3 linked regions of the Homo sapiens genome follow. The protein of the gene in region 2 purifies or fractionates together with the protein of the main gene of each other region. This does not show direct contact. Each region holds a gene or a part of one and is shown on either strand. Other genes may lie near its edges.

Evidence for each region.
Region 1: the proteins of FAM170A (region 2) and VAPB purify together in Homo sapiens (affinity purification with mass spectrometry; 4 studies listed by BioGRID and IntAct, with this or other methods). This does not show direct contact.
Region 3: the proteins of FAM170A (region 2) and CSNK1A1 purify together in Homo sapiens (affinity purification with mass spectrometry; 4 studies listed by BioGRID and IntAct, with this or other methods). This does not show direct contact.

What each region holds. Positions count from the first base shown.
Region 1 is NC_000020.11:58,448,215-58,451,623, reverse strand, and holds the end of VAPB (vesicle-associated membrane protein-associated protein B/C), read right to left. Parts: 3' UTR 523-3,409; downstream 1-522. UniProt on the Homo sapiens protein: Endoplasmic reticulum (ER)-anchored protein that mediates the formation of contact sites between the ER and endosomes via interaction with FFAT motif-containing proteins such as STARD3 or WDR44.
Region 2 is NC_000005.10:119,624,719-119,632,590, reverse strand, and holds the start of FAM170A (protein FAM170A), read right to left. Parts: upstream 3,034-7,872; 5' UTR 2,823-3,033; coding exon 2,753-2,822; intron 1-2,752. UniProt on the Homo sapiens protein: Acts as a nuclear transcription factor that positively regulates the expression of heat shock genes. Binds to heat shock promoter elements (HSE).
Region 3 is NC_000005.10:149,492,460-149,499,453, forward strand, and holds the end of CSNK1A1 (casein kinase I isoform alpha), read right to left. Parts: intron 4,402-6,994; coding exon 4,394-4,401; 3' UTR 523-4,393; downstream 1-522.

The DNA of each region.
Region 1 (3,409 bases), on a different chromosome or scaffold from region 2:
AAAGAAAGGTTTGGGAATGGAGGAAACCTGATTTTGTATACTGTGTACCCCTTGGTCTTGTGTGAAGTCTTACCATTTGCCCACCTTACTTTTCCAAAAGAAGTTAAAATTGTTTTCATTAACGTTTTAACAAGGTAACACTGTAAGATGGAGAACTGTCAACCACTACTTAAAAGACAGAATCCACCCACCTTTCAAAGCTGGAAGCAATTTACACAGGTGGGTACCTTTGTAAATCACTGATGACACACACTTCCCCCAATAGGAAAACACTGACATGCAAGCTGGTCCCTGTGCTTAAGCTCTCTGGGCAAAAGTTTCCTCATCAGTAAAATGAAGACGTTGACCTAAGTGATCTCTTAGATCTGTTTTCTGGTGCAAAAGGTCTCTGATTTTAATTTAAACCAATTTCATGTTCCTACAAAGCAGTGAGAGTCGAGCAACGGGCTCTAGTCCACACTCCAAAGCCTATCTCAATGGAATTAAGCCATCCATTCAAAATAATTTTACACTGAAGCATCCTTTAAATATATTCAGAGCACAGAATTTATTGAACATAATATGGAGACAGCTAGTACAAAAGTTTATGCCTTGGCAGGGCAGGTTTCATCAGGCTGATAATGGAACATGGGAGAACATGCTGTAAATGGCTCTTTTGGTCTGGACCCTGCAGAAATACATCTCCTTCTCTCTGGGAAACATCATGTCAGCTGCCAAGCCATGAATTTATTACATATCAGAAAACCAAAATGTGCAACAGTAAAGAGTCCTTTCCTGCACCAACTTTTTAAATTACTTCCATGTCAAAACAGCAAATACAATGAAAAATACATAAAGGACAAATTATGAAAACTAAAGCATTCTAAGACATCTCTTAAGATACTCAGTTCCTAACATGTTAACATACATTGAAGACTATAAACACACACATCAGAAACTGTGGGAATCTTTTTTCAACATAGGGAGAAAGACGTAGAATAGGGAGAGAACAGCATGGGTTACTGAAACCATTTATTCAGAAAGCAGAGGAAAGGCGAAAGGAACACTGAAATAGATCATTTTTAGTTTCTTATAGGAAGTTCCAAATGGCAGCAGTTGATAAATCGTCTTTAAAAAGGAAACGACAGCAACAGAAATGAGAACCAAATATATTTTGCATTTTTCTCTCGGTGTATCATCTTGAGTCACCTTACTTAGGCTACACACGAATGAAAAATATAAAAAGCCACGCCCACTAATTTCGCAGCACCTCATATAGTAGCAAACAGACAGAGGGTACTTACGAAACGTTTGCTAAGGAGTGAATGATGAAAAGCAAAAAGTAGTTCTTGTACACATGGTCTCAATATCACAGACAATAAATTCTGACCTTTGAATTCACATAAAAGATGCAATGGAAAAACATTTTAACATGGATACTGTACTAGAGGATTAACAGCTGAATTCAGTCTATTTCTTAAAAACAAAAGAAAGACGGGAATGCAGGCAGCCAGTTCGGAGAAACAGCCAGGACTTTTTTGTATGACATGGAAAAACCGGCAAGTCAACGTGTGAAACGTGCACACTCATTTCTCATCTTCTTAAACCCTAAAAAGCCCCGCAATCTTGTTAGCACTAAGCCTGGATGAAATTGTGTTAAGATATCTGATTAGTCTCCCTTAGTTGGCATTTTCCAAAGGGAAAAAAAAAGGGAACCTGTTTTATTTCAGTCAGACATGGCTTTGGGTATCAGTGAAACGAAGCTCTGACAGCAGCTCCACCTGCAGAAGGCCAGGCGCACTCCTGCAGCTCATCAGAATGCAAGCAGGAAAGCAGGCCAGCAAGCGAGCATCTGTCCTGCACCCACATCCATTAGCCAAGTGATTACATCTCCATCAGCCCTGGGGTGTAATAAAGCAATTGTAATCGGGCATTGTTACAGGATCAATGTTTCCTGGTTTAAAAATAAACATCAGCATTTATCTAGCAGCAGAAAGCGATTCTCCCACAGTACTGTTTTATTCAACTGACATCTTTTAATCAAAGCAATCCATATCGTGGCAACATTCCAAGGTATCATAACTGCAAATATTTATGGCAAGTTAGATAATGGCTACATTTTTGTTGCTACACTTTTCTTCCTTTTCTACGGATTTAACACAGACATTTTCTAATAAACTAATTCCATTAAGAAAAAAAAATCTCAAGTAATTATATTCATGAAGACAACCTCTCATCCACCTCCACCCGTTTCTCTTTTAACTATCATCCATAACTGTTTATGTGAGTTCATGTCTTTTAAATTTTTCAAAATATCTCTGTAATGAAAATAAAAAGCCCCTATTGTTAAGTGCCGTAGATACAGCCAAAAACATGGCATGGAGGGAGGTCAGGGCCCCCTGGCACAGGGGTGGGTGAGCTTGTGCAGCTCAGCTAATGTTCTAGGCTGTGGCTAATGGGATTCAGAGGCTGGAGGAAGAGGTCTGTGAAGCTGGGGGCAGACCCATTCCCACAGCCTCCCAAGCTTGCCTGTCGGCTGACGCTCCTTATCAGGGGCTTCTATTACTTGCCCTCTTTGCTGATATCCTGGAGAACCGCAGTGCTAATTCAGGGAAAGGCCTGAGACATCAGCAGCTCAGCTGTTTTCAAACCTCAGCAGGGCCCTTCTGTAATACCAATTTTAATCAACTGCCCTCATTCACATTTAATTTACAAGTCATGTAAAGCCTCCATATAAAGCGCTCCCATCATCTCCTTGCCGAGACGGACTGGCAATATTCTTTCTAAAGCCCCCAAAGTCATTCTCCAGGAGCATCAGCAGAGATCTTCAGGCAATGAGAAAATGGAATATGTACCTTTTTTCACTGTCTGTAGTGTGTTCAGTTTCCAACAGAAAAAGAAAAAGCATCTGAACTACAGTCTTAATTCTACTTACTTTAGTGTGAAAATAACTGAATAAGGTACGGAGGCAGACACAAAAGATGTACAGACGGGCAGAGTAGCTGAGGCAGGAAGGCCTCATCCACTCACTTCCCTGAAGCAGATTTTCAGAGCTGAAATGGTATCTTAGCAATGTAGGCCTTACAGAGACTGATTTAGTTCTAAAAAGTTGCCCGATTTAACCTCCTGGAGCCTTTATTTCTTCGTATGCAAACAGAGCCATCTACCCCCCAGTCACAGTTGCAAGGATTAAGTTCAATGAGCGAATGTATTGGAAATGTTCTATACAGGTAAGGAGTGGCATTGAAACAACAGTAACTTTCTTGAAAAGGTTCCTATCAGAGCAGATCTGTCTGAGGAAAAGGGGCCAGGGAAGGCGTTCTCCAAATCCAATTAGGCCACAGAAACTCAATTCGCGTAGGGCCAGCATGATCTCAGAGCTGCTCTTGGTGTTCCAGAAGAGTGGTCGTTGGCCTTATGGGATTTGTAT
Region 2 (7,872 bases):
ATTACAGTCAACAGGTATTTTGATAGTGTATCAATAGGAACATAGGCCTGTGTGGTGACTATGAGTACGTCTGAAGCGTAAGAGTGATACATACCAGATAGCCTTTGATATGTGTAGATTTGTGTGGGTATATTGTAGAAACATGTGTCTGTGTCTGTGGAGTTTGTGTGCATAGTTTTGTGTTTACAACCCTGAAATTATGCAATATGTAATTTTTCCTGATTGTATGGTGTGGCTTGTATTTATAATGTACATTAATTCATTCATCTGGCAATATTTTCATGAACAGCTACCATGAATCAGACACCAGTCCACTCTTCTAGGCTCTAGGAATACTGAACAAAACAGTCCTTCTTCTAAGTGGACTTTCCATTCTAGACAAGGAAGACAGACATTAAGCAGAAATATATAAGTATATCATAGGTCAGCTCATTATGAATTTATAAGGGTCATCAGATTTAGCAAACAAAAATAGCTGATGCCAAGTTAAATTTGAATTTTAGATAAATTACAAATAATTTTTTTAGCGTAAGTATGTCCCGTGCAATATTTGTCATACTTATTTTTAGTGTCAGTATGTTCCATAAAATATTTGGGACACACTTATACTAAAAAATCATTGGTGGTTTATCTGATATTCAAGTTTAACTGAACATCCTGTATTTTATCCGGCAACCCTAATAAGGGGATGGTGGTGAATCTTTGTTTCGTTGTGGTCTATGCAAAGCAGGCCTGGCTCTGCTACACAATGTGTTGCAGATATGGCATGTATGATGTGTGACTGGCTCTTAAAGAGGTATTTAGAGATAGTTTAACATAGATGTGTTTGTGTGAGAGTTGAGGAGACACACACACACACTCCCCACACACAAGAAATCTCTGTAGGAAGAAAAGACTGTCACACACATGGGTTGTGTGAGTATGTAATAGAGGAACGGTATGTGTATATAACTATATCCACTGTGTGTGGAGGTGTGTGACTCTTTCTCTGTATCAGAGTATATATGGGCATATGAGTGACTGTCTCCTGGAATACCCTTAACAAAAATTCGGTATACACTGTTATGTGTATTGAGTGTTGCCCAGGCCCAGGCATGGTGATAGGAAGTTCACCCCGCAGACCCCACCACTGTGCTCCCATTATCTCCAGTCCTCCCCCTCCCAACACACACACACATGTGCACACACAGACACACACACAGGCAGACAAAACATTCTGAAATGTAAGGGTAGATGAAGGAGAGGAAAACCATTGCCTTCCCCTTCCTGTCCCAGCCCCCTGCTCTCCATGCCTACTCTCCACGCCTCCATTCCCAGGGCTCAACCTACAGGTCTTTATGCCTCATAGGCGCTGCTGAGCTCTAATCGGGGCAGAAGCCTCCAGGGCCATCTCTGGGGCAGGCTCCTTTCTGCCCTGTCTCCTGCATGTGAGCATCCCCCTTTCAGGATAAGTGGCTTGTTTACATTTAATACATGCCATTATCATGCAGCCTGGGAAGTAAATTGACAGCGATCTGAGGCCCTTACCCTGTGCTTCATTTCCTCTGGGAAGTCCCACACTGTGGATTCACAAACTCTATTGGATTAATTGGTTAATTCTTCCCGCTGAAGCAATCAAACCTCCGTGGTTTCACTATGACGCCATCCCTAAACAAGTGTTTAATCTACTTTCTAACAAGCATTTCACTTCTCAAGATATTTTTCAACAAGGCCTTTAACTCATTGGGCTACTCTCGTTTCTGCTAAAAGGTGTAGTGCAAATCATAGACTTCTACCAGCACCCTTCACACCTTCCACCTCAGTCACCCCAGAGAAAGAGCAAATAAAGAGAATACGAGAGAAAGATGAGACTCAGGCTGCATCACTGGGTCTTTGTAAGTGGGTCCCCCGCCTGCCTGAGACTGGCATAGTTCCAGGTACCAGCAGCCCCAGAGCAAAAGTTCTCAGCCCAGCAGGGTTGGCTTTCTGTGTGCCAGTGGCATCTGAACTTCCTGTCCGTCTCACATCTGGGTACCCTCAAGATGGATGTGCGGGCATCAGCCAACAGCCAGGTCTTCCCCTCCCTACTGCATAGGTGGTACATTCTCCTCAGTTTCTCCTCCCTAAAGAAGGCTCAGGCTGGCCGGGAGCGATGGCTCACGCCTATAATCCCAGCACTTTGGGAGGCCGAGGCAGGTGGATCATGAGGTCAGGAGATCGAAACCATCCTGGCTAACACGGTGAAACCCTGTCTCTACTACAAATACAAAAAAAAAAAAAAAAAAAAAAATTAGCCAGGCGTGGTGGCGGGCGCCTATAGTCCCAGCTACTCGGGAGGCTGAGGCAGGTGAATGGCGTGAACCTGGGAGGCGGAGCTTGCAGTGAGCCGAGCTCACACCACTGCACTCCAGCCTGGGCGACAGAGCAAGACTCTGTCTCAGAAACGAAAAAAAAAAAAAAAAGGAGGCCGAGGCAGGCGGATCAGGAGGTCAGGAGATCGAGACCATCCTGGCTAACACGGTGAAACCCCGTCTCTACTAAAAATACAAAAAATTAGCCGGGCGTGGTGGTGGGCACCTGTAGTCCCAGCTACTCGGGAGGCTGAGGCAGGAGAATGGCGTGAACCCGAGAGGCAGAGCTTTCAGTGAGCCAAGATCGCGCCACTGCACTCCAGCCTGGGCGATAGAGCGAGACTCCGTCTCAAAAAAGAAAAAGAAGGCGGCTCAGGCTGGCCAGTGACGCTTGTGCCCCAGAAAGTTTGCCCCGCACATACCTCCTCCCTTCTCAGCGGTTTCCTGGGACTCTTCATTTTCCAAATGTTTCCTCTTTTGTCGTCGTTTCATGATATCAGCTAGAAGAGTTTCTAGAAGATGCTTAATGTCCACCTCCCACTTTTTCCTGTAGATTGGCCCTTCTTGGCTCTCAGGAAATTCATTAAAAAGATTCAGTACGAGTAAACGTAGTTGAATCTCCGAGATAGCTAAAGAACTCAGACCGCTTAGTGAAGGAGCAGCACTGCCCAGTGCCCACTACACTGCAGGGCTGTTAAGGTTCAAAGGTCACCAGGCCCATCGCAGATTCTCTGACATCAATGATGACATCACGGCGTTCTACGGACCTAGGTCCAACACAGTCTGTGCAACTGCAGAGACATCATTTTCAAAAACAATTCCTTTTTTCCAATAGAAGTCCTCTAATGAATTCAACTCTCCCGTATTTCAAATGTGGCAGAATATTTTGAGATGTTAACATGTTCTGTTTAATTTTTTTCTTTTCTTCTTTTTTTTTCACCCTTTCCCTTCTGGACTCAAGCAGGTAGCAGGCTTTGTGTTCATTGCTCAGAGGAGGGGTATGGCAGGGCTGAAAGCAGCAATAGCATGTTAATCATCTTGACTTTTCTTTCTTTTTTTTTTTTTTGTTGTTTTTATTTTGTTTTGTTTGTTCAGAGACAGGGTCTCTCTCTGTTGCCCAGGCTGGATTGCAGTGGTGTGATCATAGGGTCACTTCAGCCCCTAGGCTCAAGTGATCATCACACTTCAGCCTCCCGAGTAGCTGGGACAACAGGCACCAGACACGAGGCACCACACCCGGCTAATTTTTTTTTTTTTTTTTTTTTTTGAGAAACAGGGTCTCAGTATGTTGCCCAGGTTGGTCTTGAACTCCTAGCCTCAAGCTATCCTCCTGCCTCAGGCTCCCAAAGTGCTAGGATTGTAGGCATGAGCCACCACACCCCACCTGACTTTTATTTCTAAAATCTCAAACTCTGTAGGAAAGAGGAAAGTTAGCAGAAACATAACGGAAGCAGGATTTTTTTTAACTAGGCATGCCCCCTTCTTGCTCTACTATAGTGTTGAGAGGTACTGATTAGGTCAGAGAGAGAGAGGGATCTTCAAACTATGGAGGAGAGGAGCCCTCTAAAATGTGGCTGAAGAGGTACATGTGGCAAAAACTTCAAGAAGGGCTGCCTGTATTATGCGTACAGGCAGAATCATGGCGACCTATCTCACACATGGCATAGGAGCCACACCACCTAAAGACTCCCTGGCAGCTGAGCTGATGGGCATCTAAACTTCAGCTGTATGCTCCAATAACCAGAGACTATGCTCTCACCCCACCCTCAAAACCTCAGCCCTGTATGATTTCCAAATAGGGAGGGGTGGAAATCCAAAGAGGACATCAACAGAACCAAGGCTTAAATTACAAATTAAATGGAGTTACATAAGAAAATTGCATACTATTTCCTGCACATCTCTGCTCATGGGCTGAAATGTATACCAGTTATAAGTGGCAACCCATCTGGATCTTCCTGATTCCAATCTAAAATTAGAGACACCTTATTTGGGGCAGTGGCCCCAGTCCAGTGGGACTATTAGTTGACAAGTATGAGGGGGACTCCCAGAAATCACTGCATTAAAAAAGCAGTAGAAATACCCAGAGGACCAAGATGGGCCCAAATTTGAAAGGGCACTGCAGACTGTCCCCAGGCAGAAGGAGAATGAAGATAGGGCAAATGTAGCCTTGTAAAAATTTGCTGATGAGATTAAATCTCCAGTTTCTTAAAGAATCCCTAAAAAAGAGGGGCCAAAGAGCATTTTTTTGGGTGGTAGAAATTTTCAGACTAAAGTAGAGAGAATTGTATAATAGGAATGCAGTTTCATGTACACATAATCCAGTTTCAACAGTTATCAGTATTCTGCCATTCTTGTTCCAACCACCACACACACAGACTTTTAGTCTTTTGTTCATTTCTTTTTATTTAGGTGTTTGAGATAGAGGAGTGGGGGACTTGCTGTATTTTAAAGCAAATTCCAGACATTATGTCATTTCTCCTTGAATGCAGCAGTATGTACCTACAAAGATATGAACTTTTAAAAAGCATAACAGAAATATCATTATCTCACCAAATGAATTTAATCATAATTCTTTTATATAATTTCATAACCAAGCCATACTCAATTTCCTCCAAATATGCTAAAATATCTTTGTATAACTGTATTGTTGAGATCAAGATCCAAACAAAGTCCACACATTGTGATTGGTTGATACATCTTTTAGTCTATAACAGTTCTCCCTCCCTTTTTAAGGCATTCACCTGTTGGAAAAAACTGAGTAATTTATCTTCTAGAATTTTCCACAGTTTGGAAATGGTTAATTGTATTCTTGTGATGTTATCTAGATGTTCCCCTATGAGCTGAATTGCCTTGTAAACAGGTAGTTAGGTCTAGATAATTGATTAGTTTTAGATTCAGTGACATGGGAAGCTTGCAGAGTTTTGCAGGAGAAATTACATTTGAAAAGATCACTCTGGTAACTGTGTTGAGAATAGACTTTTAGAAGGCAAAGGCTGAATCAGAGAGAACAGTGGGCCTATTGCAATAATCCAGGAGAGAGATGAGACTGGTTTGGATCACAATGTTAGATGTGAAAATAATGGATAGTGGTCATCTTCTGGATGTATTTTGTAGGAAGAGACAACAGAATTTGCTGAAAGATCAGATATTTTCCAGAAGCTAGGCTTGTGGACTCCTTCATCTGGTACCCCACCAAAAGAGGCCATTCTACATCTGCCCCTGAAGTCATAGCCTTCATGTGGGGAACATGTGGGGACACTAGATCAAAGGAGCCTCCTCTTGTAGCCGACAAAGATGGCTGTTTGTTCCTCCCTCTGACCTCCCCCTCTGGCTTTCCTCTGTTCCTCTTTGACTTCCCCCACCACCAGATTCATCATCAAAACTCCTTCTGATCCTTGAAGAGTCAGGGAAAAAATGTCCACCAGGTGACCAAATATTACTTAGGGGTAGGAGTCACAGTCCTGGAAGACATACCCCAAACTGTTCACTTTCCTTACCTCTGAGTCAAGAAGGAGGATGAGAGGAACAGGTGCAGAAGATAATGAAAGAGAACTCTACTCCTTATATTTCATACTCTGGATGATTAGAATTCTATAACAAAAATGTACTAACATATAACTTGTGTAACTAAAAATATACACATATTAAGAACAAACCAGCGAGCCTGCCACTCCTAGAAAATTGACAATATTAAGAATAAAGCAGAAGATATAATTACAGACCCTGTAGACATCAAAAAAATAGCAAGGAAACCCCACAAACAGAGCTATGGACTTGAATTTGACAACTTAGATGAAATGGACAAATTTCTCAAAAAACACAAACTGCTACAACTCGCTCAGTATGAAATAAGTAAATTTCATGCCCTATAACTATAAAGGAAATTGAATTTGTAATTGTTAAACTCCCAAAAAAGAAATCTCCATGACTACATGGTTTCACTGGGAAATTCTGTCAAATGTTTAAAGAAGAATTAACATTAATTCTACACAATCTCTTCCAGAAAAAGAGGAAGAGAGATGATTTCTCAATTCATTTTATGAAGTTAGTAATACCCTGATACCAAATCAGACAAAGATAGCAACAAAAAAGAAAACTACATACCAATATTCCTAATAAATATAGACGCAAAAATTCTTAATAAAATATTAGAAAACAGAATTCAGCAATATGTATAAAGAATTACATACCATGACCAAGTGGGGTCTATTCCAAGGATGCAAGACTGATCTATTCCAAGGATGCAAGACTGATTAAACTTCAAAATTCAATCCATATAATCCACTGTATTTATAGGCTAAAAAAGAAAAATCGCATAGGTTGAAGAAGAAAAGAAAATCAACTGATGCAAAACTTTTTAAAGCATTTTAAAATATTCATTCTAGCTGGGTTGGTTTGGTACTCCTATAGTCCAAGCTACTGTGGGGCTGAGGTGAGAAGATCACTTGAGCCCAGGAGTTTGAGGCCATCCTGACAACACAGCAAGACCACATATCTTTTTTTTTTAAAAGTTGTTCTTATAAAAATAGGAATAGAGAGGAAATTTCACAACTCAGTAGAGAGAATCTACGTAAAGCCTACCGCTAACATTGATGGTAAAACTGAATGTTTTTCTCCTAAGAACAGGAACATGGCAAAGCTGTCTACTCTCAATGTTCTTAATAATAATGCTCTTAGCATAAAACTGGATGTTCAAGCCAGTGCAAAGGGCAAAAAAAGGAAAACAAAAGTGACACAAGAGAGAATAAAAGAAATAAAACTTCCTATTTCCAGGTGACATGATTGTGTAGAAAATCCCAGAAAATCTACAGAAAGAAGAGGAGGAGGAGGGGGAGGAGAAGGAGGAGGAGGAGGAGGAAGAGGAGGAACAAAGGTAGAGAAGGAAGAAAAAAGAAAAAAGAAAGAGAGAGAGAGAACTTCTATAAATGAATGCAGCAAAGTTACAGGGCAGAAGATAAAATTACATCAATTGTATTTCTATATATTACCAACAGACACATGAACACCAAAATTAAAACAATACCACTGGCCATGCAGAGTGGCTCATGCCTGTAATTCCAGCATTTTGAGAGGAGGAGGCGAGAGAATCCCTTGAGCCCAGGAGTTCCAGACCAACCTGGACAACATAGCAAGAACACTTCTCTACAAAAGAAATTTTTAAAAATTAGCTGGGGGTGGTAGCACATGGCTCTGGTCCTAGGTACTCGGGAGGCTAAGCACATGAAATGATATTCAATATCATTATCCATTAGGAAAAGGCAAAGTAAAACCACAGTGTATCACTACACAACTATTGGAATGACTACAATAAAAAAGTGACAACATCAAATATTGATGAGGATGTTGGATCATTCATACATTGCTGCTAGAAATGTAAAATGTTATAGCCAAAAGTATGGCAGCTGAAACATATAACTACCTTATTACCCAGCAATTACATTATTGGGCATTTATCCCAAAGAAATGAAAAACCTGCATACAAAAACCTACATAACAGCTTGTTCATAATAGCCAAAAACTAGAAACAACTCAGATGCCCTTC
Region 3 (6,994 bases), about 30 Mb from region 2:
AAAATAAATAAATAAAGTAAGGGAATATAACTATCTTCCCTCCAACTCTGTGCTTTGGTATCCTTATATGCAAAATGGAGACAGGATGTACTTCACAGGGCGCTGATTAGGCAAATACATGTAAAGCACTTAGAATAGTGCATGACACTCAGCAAATGATGGCTAATACTATCAATCTCTGGGTTTAAAAGGGTGATATAACAAGAGGAGCACCATGGCTTAACTGCATGAAAGCAAGAAAATCAGGTTGAGGTCTTGGCTCTATAAAGCTTACCAATTACCAACATGCCTTGCCTTGGGCAGCCCCACTCTTTTCTGAAACAGTTAACTGTTTCTTATTACTGTTATGAGGAATAAAAGAGATGACATATATTAAGGATTCTGAAAACTAGTTTGCAAAATGGTGATTTTTCTAACACATAAAATCCTTTCACCTTAAATTAGCTGACATTCAAGTTAGAGCTTTCTCTTCTCTCCATTTTTAAGTCAACATGGAATCATGGTATCTTATTCAGTGAGTTGTAACGTTGCTACCAGTTTATTTTGATAATTGACACAGATTTAGCAAGTATAATCCTTCAAGTGGCTCCTGTGCCCTTTTGACATGTATCCACCTTTTTGTTGTTGTTGAGACGGAGTCTCACTGCAACGCCCAGGCTGGAGTGCAGTGGCACGATCTCAGCTCACTGCAACCTCCATCTCCCGGGTTCAAGCGATTCTTCTGCCTCAGCCTCTTGAAAAGCTGGGATTACAGGCGCCCGCCACCACACCCGGCTAATTTTTGTATTTTTAGTAGAGACAGGGTTTCACTATGTTGGCCAGGCTGGTCTTGAACTCCTGCCCACTTCGGCCTCCCAAAGTGCTGGAATCACAGGCGTGTGCCACTGCTCCTAGCCAACCACTTTTTTTTTTTTTTTTTTTTTTAGATTTCCTTTGTGGCACCATAATAGAATGTTCCAGGTTCATCTCATATTTCTCCATCCCAGGAGCCATTATTACTCTACTTTTGAGTATGTCCTCAAAACTGGTCTAACAAGTCATTTCAGAAAATAATTTCACTTCAACAATACACTGTTTGTTGATTCAACACAAACTGCATGGGCTGCTTAGATCAATTTACACTTGGTTCATCGCCATCTTTGGCTGTTTCAAACATACACTGCTAAAAAAAAAAAAAGATTGTCATTAAGAATATTACAATAGAAATGGAAGTTTTGAGGAGGAAGAAAATCCCCCAAAATGTAAGCAATGGTAATAATGCATTTAAAGTATAGTCTCACAAAGTCTCACTTAAGAGAGCAGCACACCCAGGACACACATATTGATCTGCTGACACCACTTCTTTACTATACTTCATATAGATGTCCTCACATCTTGATTTACATGGTTATAACTGCTTAAAAACTGGCAAAGAGAAAACCTAAAATAATGCTTTATACCAGTTTGAGTCAGAACCAGACTGTTCCAGACTAGTTGGAAAACGACCCAGGAACTCACCTGCATTAAATGCTGAATTTAACTGAGCTAAAAATGTCTAGGCCATCCCTTCTTAGAATTCCCATGACTCATTCTAGTCAAAAGCTATAAGAACATATTCCTTAATAGTTCAGCAAACTTTAGGGAAAACTAGCTCATTGTCTTGGGTTCTAAAGTCCTTTTGTTTGATTATTTTTATTATAATGAAATTAAACTTATGACTATTACAGTATGCTCAGCTTAAAACATTTATGAGTACTGCAAGGACTAACAGAAACAGGAAAAATCCTACTAAAAATATTTGTTGATGGGAAATCATTGTGAAAGCAAACCTCCAAATATTCATTTGTAAGCCATAAGAGGATAAGCACAACCATATGGGAGGAGATAACCAGTCTCTCCCTTCATATATATTCTTTTTTATTTCTTGTTATACCTTCCCAAAACAGAGACATTCAACAGTAGTTAGAATGGCCATCTCCCAACATTTTAAAAAAACTGCACCCCCCAATGGGTGAACAAAGTAAAGAGTAGTAACCTAGAGTTCAGCTGAGTAAGCCACTGTGGAGCCTTAAGTGGTGAGGTCTTCCAATTTCAGAGTGATGTGTCTTCAACTTGTATCATCATTTTAGCGGAAAAACATAATTTAATTTTGGTGAAATGAGATTCATCTCGTAACAGGATTAGTAACAGCATTCACTGAATTTCACACTCTTCTTTTGTGAACAGTGAAGAAAATGAATGGTAGCTAGAAGATCAATGGGATTCCAGCTCCAGCTGCAGATGGAATGACGATATACCAGGACAAAAAACACCTATATTTTGATTTACAAAGCTAACAGCAGTTTTAAATCTGCAACTTAATTACAGACCAACTACACCACAACCTTTTCAAATGGCAAAAATACAAAAAAGTGTTACAAAAATATTTCAGAAAAAGTGCATAGTCTAAGTGCATAGTAAATAAAAGCACTGAAAAATATCTTGCTAGAGGGAGTTCAGCTTGGAAGTTATTACCAAAGCTAAACATTTTTATTTTACACAAACTATACTCAAAAATAGCTTTATGAGACTGATTTCTGGCTAAAAGTATCAAAGGGTTTATTAGTCAAGAAACAAATACCTCAACCGACAAGGGTGGATAGAAAAGAAACAAAGAAGCTGCCTACCCCAGAAGTTCAGACTTAATAAAATTTCTTCAGTATTACGGTACTAATATCCCTTAATGGCAGAATGTGATAATCATGGAATTAATTATTGCTAAAGTAGTTTTCAAATAAAAAAAAGAAAAAAGAAAACAAAACAAATTAAACTTGACACAATCTGACCAAACACGTGTCAATTTACAATTTCAAGGTTATTTTACAAAATACCTACATTTACACAATAGGCTCCCGGCAGCATTTCCAGACAAATGTTCTTTTAATTTATCCTGACATGCTATAAATGAATAAATTACACTATTTAAAAATTATCATCAGTAAGTTTTCCTTTCTCATGGGTCAGAGAAAAAGAAATGAGCGTGCAAAGAAGATTGAGAGGAAGCGCACGCACACAGATAACTTAAAGAAGCAGGAGGGGCTGGGGAGGGTCAACAATCACTGAACCTCACACAGTGTGATGCTCTCCAAGGGTGAAAGTCAACTGCTTATAGCCATTTCAAAAGTATTTTAAAGAAAAATGTTTTGTAGGGAAACCCTTTAATGCTTTCATTTTTATTCAAAATCAGTCCAGCTGCTAGTCAGCGGGCAGCAGCTACAATACCAAGTTCTGGCAGTTGCAGTACTAGATATTGTGCCTGCAAGTCATAAAAAAAAAAAAAAAAAAAGAAAAAAATGAAAGAATGCCTTTCCCCTTCAGACAAAAGAATTACTTTTTTCATTTTTCTTAAAAAAAGAGGAAAAGTTATAACACGAAACCTAAATTGACTTGCAAAGGAATACCATGTAACAAATGGCTTGAAGTAGTCTATCAAAAAATTGGGGAGATTTTTATTTAATAGTGAGTCAGCAAGGCATTTTTTGTTGTTTAAAAAAAATCTCATTTCCTTACAGAAACAGTTTTTAGTTTTTAATGAACTTGTAAACAAAAAAGCTCCCATTTCAAAATAAAAACAAAATCCCAGATCATATAGATGTTTACAGTGATTACATTTATCTAAGCAACATACATACATGTTCAGTTGTAAGATGTTAACTAAATTTCTGTGACAAATATGCTTTTTTTTTAATACCAAGAACATTATAGAGTTAATGCAGAGTCCTAAGGATAATCTAGTAGTCACTAAGTTTTTCTTAAGTCTTCACTTTAGATGCTGTTATTTCTAGCACAATTAAGCAGGCAGAGTCTTTCATATGCTCAAACACTGGAATCTTTGGTTGCTACCATATCAGCTGGCTTGCAGACAAGAAGCCAACCATTTTAAGAATGTTTTAAGTGAACAACTTGCAAACCCCAGGGATGGAAAAACCCTAAGAATGCACAATTGTGAGCATTTAACAACCATCACAACTGTGGCTGAAGACTGTTCATGCCGTTCTTCTGAAATGAGATCTCAAAGCAGTATAGTTCAAAACAAAAGGTTTTAACAAAAAATTGGCATATGCACAATTTCTCCACCAATTTTTGTGTGTCAACCATTTAGTTAACTTTTCCACTTGAAAAAATGCAATAGAAAACCGGACACCATGTTTCACTATCTCAGTTAATATTCACAATTACAGAGGCTACAACTCAGGATACAGCATCACCAATGCTGCCCAGAGTCAGTTTATACTGAAATTAAGTTCTTTACACCAAGTAAATGGTTGTCCACAACCACTGGCTAGTGTACATATGAACTAAAATTTCTAGATTTGGGGAGAAACAAATGCTGCTCCGATCATCTGCTCTGCTTCTTCTGTTCCTCAATTCATGCTTAGAAACCTGGTAAAAAATCAAAACAAAAAAAAAGTTAAAATTCCAAGTCAAAAATTTTAAATTACACCCAAAATATGGAAATTGGGTGGAACTGAGCCAATAATTATAGTGGCTCATGTTATTTCGTCTCTTGTGAAAAGTATTAGCTCAACTTTTTAAAACAGAAAAACATGAATCTATACTTAAAACTAATTTTTTCTGTTTTGAATGACTCTAGGAAGGAGTGGTACAGTGAATTCAAAGCCTCTCAGCATACTAAAATAATTATTAGTAATTCAAATGAGCATGTTTCTGCATTTTTACATATGCAGAACATATTAGGCATTCACATATTTATCAAATCAATGAAAAACAGATTGCTTTGCTTTAACTAAAGAATACAATTTTAATCCTACCATAGGCACAAATTATTTCTGACACAAATTAAAACGGTTAGCTTTAATAATAAATGCATTCAAAGCATAATTATCTGTATTATTTTACTAAACAAAGACCTGAGAAGCATGTAATTTCTGTAGAGAAACCTTAGACCTTTAAAACTTCTTTACCGGCCGCATTAGAAAGATTGTTTTGTGACTCATTTAAAAATGTAAGCAAGTGATGCTTTTTTGGCTTTATTTACTTCTCAAGCCTACACATTCTACAAATACTTCCCTCCTCCACCACAAGTAGACCCTAGGGCCTCTACATAGGCCCTAGGCCAAGTTTGAATACAAGAAGCCTCAGGTCATAACCACACTTTATCTACAGCTAAAGGCAAAGGGAGAAAATATGCCTGTCCCACAGCAATAGCCTGAAAATCTCTTAAGCACCGTTTTTCCTCTCACCAGACACCCACTCTGAGGCACCAATGCTCCTTTGTCTACCTCCTTACAAATGAGCTAGAAACTATAGCTCATTCTAGCCCACTCCAATCAATCCTCACTTCTTCAGCCCAGGTCATGTTTTCTTCAATCATAAACTGCTCCTTTTCTTTTAGTTCTTTTTTCTTTTTTTTTGGAGACAGTCTCGCTCTGTCACCCAGGCTGGAGGGCAGTGGCATGATCTTGGCTCACCGCAACCTCTGCCTCCTGGGTTCAAGCGATTCTCCTGCCTCAGCCTCCTGAGTAGCTGGGACTATAGGTGCCTGCCACCATGCCTGGCTAATTTTTGTATTTATAGTAGAGACACAGTTTCACTGTGTTGGCCAGGCTGGTCTCAAACTCCTGACCTCGTGATCCACCCGCCATGGCCTCCCAAAGTGTGGGGGTTACAGGTGGGAGCCACCGTGCCCAGCTTCTTTTACTTTTTAAACATTTGTTGGGCCATCTCCCATGGGCTTTGTGGGAGAAACAAAATAATTCTAATATTTATTTCTTATGCATATATGCCCCTTTTTTTTTTTGGGAAATAATAGCGAACATACAAGAGAGTAGGTGCATAATAGATCTTTGTTGCCTGGGTACTAAGTCCATAAGCACCAAATGCCAAAAATGAAAGATAACATAACTTTGAGAATATACTTCACCATAGGGAATATCATTTGATGCATGTTATTAAGAAGTATTAGCGAGGTAAACCTTTCTTTTAAAGGTTGTCAAACCAAACCTTAATAAAAATCTGACTATACCCTGTGACCAAATTTCAATTTTAAAATACAGGAAAAGTTTCAAGCTTCTTGTTTGGGAGTTTAAAAAAGAAAAAAAGTACAATACAGGATAAGCTATGCAGGTTAAGAAACTAAGGATTAAACAGAAATTAAACAGATTAAACAGGATTAAACAGAATTCCCCCATCAGGATTTGGTTTCAAGTCTTGCAATTCTTCTTAAACATGATTTAAAAAACGTATTTTCACAACTACTAAAATTGCTGGGTTTTATCATAGTTTTCTTATGTAATCATATTAAACTAATTGTTATGGTGAATATACCAAATGGCTTTCAAAGGGAAAACCACCATCACTAACAAACTAAAATGGAAACATGCTACATTGTCAGTCAAAATACAAGGAAACTCTTGTGCCTTTAATAGCAAGAAAACTTCAGAATGTATCTGTACATCTTTTGACCTGTTATCTGAGGAATTGCTGAGTCAATAAATGATTACAATTGTTTAGAAACTGGTAAAAGGCTACCCTAACAATATTCCTGGTAGAATAGAGCAGTCAAATCCAGCTTTAACTCTTCAAATGGGTCAATGGTATGACATTCCAGCCAGGGATCAACATTTCTCCAGTGAATTGTCCTAAGATGTTACTGAAGTATGTTTAGGAAAAAACCTCAATAGGAATATTCAACAGGTATTCAACAGTCTTGCAGTACTAAGCATTCTTTTCCCCAATACGCATTGGTCTTTGGTTTTTATCTTGCAGATTAGGTGGCTCATCCAGGCTTCCAAGAGTTCAAGAACCCATCTTCACTGTAACATCAGTTAAAATGAGGAATGAATCCCTTTATTCCTTAAAAAAAAAGGGGAGGGGGAGGGGGGAGTTAAAACAGAGTTGGAGGATGTGATGATTAAGAAGTTAATAGCTTAATTAAATTTCAAATCTGCAAAAAGCAAAAAAAAGTTTATTTTTATATAACTAACAAGGATATTCTATCCCTGCCCGCCACCCA